Regions from separate parts of the Homo sapiens genome. Here region 2 is linked to region 1. The links come from fine-mapping of genetic effects on gene expression. A gene starts in region 1. The other region holds a variant in brackets. All regions are shown on one strand. Distances are from middle to middle. Region 1 holds the start of KHDRBS2 (KH RNA binding domain containing, signal transduction associated 2). Region 2 has its middle 890 kb from the start of KHDRBS2.

What was found. PIP is the estimated chance that this variant, and not a neighbour inherited with it, causes the effect. A credible set is the group of variants that fine-mapping cannot tell apart.
Region 2: its variant is the best candidate, but not a certain one, in a credible set for the expression of KHDRBS2 in tibial nerve (GTEx, PIP 0.71).

What each region holds. Positions count from the first base shown.
Region 1 is chr6:62,284,734-62,287,650 of GRCh38, forward strand. KHDRBS2 (KH RNA binding domain containing, signal transduction associated 2) reads right to left here and starts at 1,492. Exons shown (of 9, transcript NM_152688.4): 1 at 1,125-1,492. The coding sequence starts at 1,215. RefSeq lists a silencer at 1,352-1,441.
Region 2 is chr6:61,391,413-61,394,329 of GRCh38, forward strand. No RefSeq gene overlaps it. Among named protein-coding and RNA genes, the nearest start is that of KHDRBS2, 890 kb to the right of the region's middle. The variant G/C (reference allele first, on the strand shown) is at 1,316.

The DNA.
Region 1 (2,917 bases):
TGTTAATATAAATAACAATTCATAAATTAAAAAATATAGCTAATGCCTATTTAAATCATATATTGAGGAGCAGAATTTATTCTTCCTTGGTACAACTAAGTCTCAAAAAAATCTTTTAATACTGAGGAGCTTGGGTAGAGGAAGTTATCCGTTTTAGTTTTTTGCTGTATGTAAGTCCATAACAAACTTAGCTACAAAACTGCATTGTAACCAATTTGATGATGAAGCAATTCATTATTAATGAAGCATTCATCTAAAAAAAATCTGCAGATGTTTTAAAAAGGCATGGGTAAGTAACTACAGATACCATAGGTGTCTTTAGTATTTAGATGGCATTATTATAACATAAATGGAGTAATTCGGTTAATAAAGTTCATGTGTCTTTTTTCAAAAAAAAACCTTTCAAAGCAATGCAAAAAACAAGACATATGTGTTCCTCTAGGAATGAAATCCCCTTTAACATTACAGGTACACAAAAGAAAATGCACACTTGGTAAAACAGTTGATCAATTATAGAGTGTTCCCAGGGACCAATATCTCACAGAGTACCCAATCATCACACTTCAAATAAATGTATAAGCACTTTAGCCTTTACTTACCACATTAACATACATATAAGAACATGCATAGTTTAATGCATAGGTTAATTCTAACACTTTCCATAGGATAGACTTTGATTAAAGGGTATCAAAAATCACTTCCTAAATGCAGCAAAAAATAAAAATAAAAATACCGATCTGTAGCTACGAAGCTCTTAGAACACTACATTGATCACCATTTACTTCCAAACTGCTTTCCCTTCCCTCTGCGAAGTGAAAATGTCCCTGTAGACCGCGTTACATACACTTTATGGTTTCTCTATCAATGATCCTAACAGGTCACATCGCCACTGCCATTAGATCTCCGTAGCTTTGGTCTTCTCCAAATTAAGACGTGGAGAAGGAGCACTGCTGTCCGCCCCAAGAACGGGGTCTGTCCGCCCGAGCTCTAAGGCGAGCATCTTCAGGGGGACAGTTTCTGCGAAGGCGGGGAGAGGAGTCCCTCCCCAACTTCACTCCCCTAATCAAGCCGCGGGTGAGATAGGCAGCCGGCGGTTTGTGCCCATCTGTGGGGGCAAGTCCTACCTTCTGCCAAAAGGCGCGACGCATGCACAAAAGATGGATCCAGGCTATCTTTCTCTGCCATCAGCTCAGGCAAATATTTCTCCTCTTCCATAGCGCGGACTTCGGATTGTCCCCGGGCGAAGCGCGAGGTTCCGCTCGCTCGGACGCAGGCAGGGTCTTGGGGCAGCGCCTGGCTCCCGCGCTGCTCCTCCTCCGCGCGGCGAGGGATCTCTGTGCGTCCTCACTGGCCCATGCACCCAGCACCTGCGACTCCCGCCGTCGGGCTGCGTGGCCCCGCGCCCACACCTGCCCGTCCCTTCCGTCGTCCCTCGCTCGCGCAGAGCCCCGGCTCACACCAGCGGCCTTAACTGGAGAGGCGGGAACAGGACGCGGCCCACCTCCGCCAACCACTCATTGGTGGTGGTGCCAGGAGAGGCGGGGCGCTGGCAGAAGGCCGCGGGCTCTCATTGGGCGGTAGCGCAAGTCGGGTGGCCTGACTGGCAGGAGGCAGCTGCAGAGGGGAAGGGAGCTCGGAAGATGCAAACGCTTTCTTCTTGCGCCCAAGCCTTCCCTGGCTATTAGGCATGCCCAGTTTTGTGGAGTTCTCTGTGTCTTCAGCTAAGGCGCAGAGGAGAGAGAGCGCGGGAAAAGCGCAGGTTAAAGAGAGAGGTCTGAGTACAAGTGGACAGGGGAGATGGAGATGAGAAGTGAGCCACCCGAGAGGGTGGAAAAGCGCCAGGGAAAGTCTCAGGAAGGTAGATGGGACTTCACCTGCGTCCCTAAGGCACAGGTGTCTCCTTTCCCTCACACAGCTCAGGCGCACTCCAGTTGTGCAGGAATCAGCAGCGCACTGGGTCTGGAAATACAATGAAGACTGCATGTGATCGGCAGCTGGTATTTCCGATGACCTACATCTCAGGGACGCAGTAGGATGTTCATTGATAAACAAATAAAGCGGCTCGAAGAAATATTGTGCAGAGACATGATTGAGGTGTACAATCATTAGGATATTGAATTAGTTCTGGTAACCTATCCGTGCCTCCTTTCCCCAGACCCTATCTGTGGAAGGGAGGTTGGGAGGGGCTGAATTTAAAAACCAAAAACAATATGATTCATTAGTCACAGTTTGTGAAAGAATTGGGAAGACATGTAGAAGAAAGAAGAGACTAGAAAATAGGTAACCACGTTTGCTCTAATTTTCCCCTTTCTCCTAGTTTTAGATGTGCCAGTCTCTTTCACCAGGTACTGTTGCTGAGCTACTTTGTATTATCCCACCTCTATTTAAAGGAAAGTTAAACCCTCATGATATCACCAAGCGTGGAGGCAAAGCCCATCCTTCTTTTACCAATGCGGCTATAAAATGTAACTTGCATGCCTCAATCGCTAGGAAACAATCTTTCCCCAAGTCTTGGGTTCTCGTTTCATAAGTAGTCATTTCCTGATTCTTCTCTCCCCCATTATTTTTGGTGTGGAAGAATGAGGGCCAACTTTGCTACAAATAAAATGTGCTGAAATTTTTCCAACTTATCTTACTGTATTTAAATATTTTCCTTTTAATTTTTAGATAAATTCGGGAGATTAACTTTTATTTGTATAATGTTTAAATAACGTAACGTGCCTCACATTGATTATTTCAATACGTCCTCACAGAAGCACTCTGAAAAATGCCAGCCAAGTATTACTTTCTCTGTTTGTATAAATATGGAAACTGAGGCAAAACAGAGAAATCGTCTCATGTCTAGTTAATGCTGAAGTTGAGATTAAAATTCAATTCTATATTAGCACCATTTATATCCAGAATATACTGCTTCAAC
Region 2 (2,917 bases), 890 kb before region 1:
TAGACAGAAGCATTGTCAGAAACTACTTTGTGATGTTTGCATTCAACTCACGGAGTTGAACATTCCTCTTGATAGAGCAGTTTTGAAACACTCTTTTTGTAGAATCTGCAAGAGGATATTTGGACCTCTTTGAGGCCTACGTTGCAAACGGGATTAATTCATATAAAACTAGACAGAAGAATTCTCAGAAACTTCTTTGTGATGTGTGCATTGAACTCACAGAGTTGAACCTTCCTTTAGATAGAGCAGTTGTGAAACACACTTTTTATATACTTTCCAACTGAATATTTAGGGCGCTTGGAGGCCTGCGGTAGAAAAGGAAATATCTTCATAGAAAAACTAGACAGAATCATTCTCAGAAGCTACACTGTGATGTGTGCATTCAACTCACACAATTTAACCTTTCTTTTGATAGAGCAATTTTGAAATCTTCTTTTTGTAGAATTTGCAATTGTGCATTTAGAGGGCTTTGAGACAGATGGTCGAAAAGGAAGTATCTTTATGTAAAAGCTAGACAGAAGCATTCTCAGAAACTAATTTGTGATGTTTGCATTCAACACAGAGTTTAACATTCCTTTTGATTGAGCAGTTTTTGAAACCGTCTTTTAGTAGAATCTGCAAGTGCATATTTGGGCCTCTTTGAGGCCTTTGTAGGAAATGGAAATTCTTCATATAAACAAGACAGAAGAATTCTCAGAAACTACTTTGTGATGTGTGCGTTCAACTCACAGAGTTTAACCTTTCTTTTGATAGAGCAGTTTTGAAACACTGTTTATTAAGTCTGCAAGTGGATATTTGGAGTGCTTTGAGACCTATGGTGGAAAAGAATATATGCTCATAAAAAAACTAGACAGAAACATTATCAGAAACTACTTTGTGATGTTTGCATTTATCTCACAGAGTTCAACATTTCTTTTGATAGAGCAGTTTTGAAACAGTCTTTTTGTAGAATATGCAAGTGGATATTTGCACCTCTTTGAGTCCTTCGTTGGAAACGTGAATTTCTTCACATAAAAACTTAACAGAAGAACTTTTCTCAGAAACTTTTTGTAATATGTACATTTAACTCAGAGAGTTGAAATTTCCTGTTGATAGAGCAGTTTTGAAACACAGTTTTTGTAGAATCTCCAAGTGGATAACTAGAGCTCTTTGAAGCCTATGGTAGAAAAGGAAATATCCTCATATTAATAGTAGACAGAATCATTCTCAGAAACTACTTTGTGATGAGTGCGTTCAACTCACAGAGTTTAACCTTTCATTTGGTAGAGCAGTTTTGAAACACTCTGTTTGTAATATCTGCAAGTAGATATTTGTA[G/C]TGCTTTGAGGCCTTCTTTGGAAAAGGGAATATCTTTACATAAAAAGTAGACAGAAATATTCTCAGAAACTTCGTGATGTCTGCACTCAACTCATAGAGTTGAACCTTCCTTTTGATAGAGCAGTTTTGAAACACTCTTTTTGTAGAATTTGCAAGTGGATATTTAGAGCGCTTTGGGGCCTATGGTGGGAAATGAAATATGTTCATAGAAAAACTACACAGAAGCATTCTCAGAAACAATTTTGTGATGTGTGCGTTCAACTCACAGAGTTTAACATTTCTTTTGGTAGAGCAGTTTTGAAACACTCTTTTTGTAGAATTTGTAAGTGTATATTTAGAGCGTTTTGGGCCTATGGTAGAAAAGGCCCCAGACGCTCTAAATATTTTTCATATAAAAACTACACAGAAGCATTTTGAGACACTGCTTTGTGATGTTTGCATTCAACTCACAGAGTTGAACATTCCTTTTGATAGAGCAGTTTTGTAACACTCTTTTTGAAGAATCTGCTAGGCGATATCTCAACCTCTTTGAGGATTTCATTGGAAACCAGAATTTCTTCATATAAAAACTAGACAGAAGTATTCTCAAAAACTTATTTGTGATGTGTGCATTCAACACAGAGAGTTGAACGTTCCTTTTGATAGAGCTGTTATGAAACGCTCTTTTTTGGATTTCCAAAGTGGATATTTAGAGCGCTTTGAGGCCTATGGTAGAAAAGGAAATATCTTCATAGCAAAACTAGACAGAATCGTTCCCAGAAACTACTTTTGATGTGTGCGTTCAACTCACAGAGTTTAACCTTTATTTTGATAGAGTGGTTTTGAAACACTCTTTTTGTAGAATTTGCAAGTGTATATTTAGAGCGCTTTGGGACTATAGTGGAAAAGGAAATATGTTCATAGAAAAACTAGACAGAATCATTCTCAGAAACTACTTTGTGATGTCTGCGTTCAACTCACAGAGTTTAAATTTTCTTTTGATAGAGTAGTTTTGAAACTCTCTTTTTGTAGAATCAGCAAGTTTATACTTAGAGCGCTTTGAAGCCTATGATAGAAAAGGAAATATCTTCACATAAAAACTAGACAGAAGCATTCTCAGAAACTACTTTGTGATGTTTGNNNNNNNNNNNNNNNNNNNNNNNNNNNNNNNNNNNNNNNNNNNNNNNNNNNNNNNNNNNNNNNNNNNNNNNNNNNNNNNNNNNNNNNNNNNNNNNNNNNNCTTAGAGCGCTTTGAAGCCTATGATAGAAAAGGAAATATCTTCACATAAAAACTAGACAGAAGCATTCTCAGAAACTACTTTGTGATGTTTGCATCCAACTCACGGAGTTGAACGTTCCTTTCGATAGAGCAGTTTTGAAACACTCTTTTGTATAATTTCCAAGTGGATATTTAGAGCACTTGGAGGACTATGGTAGAAAAGGAAATATCTTCATAGAATAACTAGAGAGAATCATTCTCAGAAACTACTTTGTGATGTGTGCGTTCAACGTACAGAGTTTAACCTTTATTTTGATAGAGTGGTTTTGAAACACTCTTTTTGTCGAATTTGCAAGTGTATATTTAGAGGGCTTGGAGGCCTGTGGTAGAAAAGGAAAATCTTC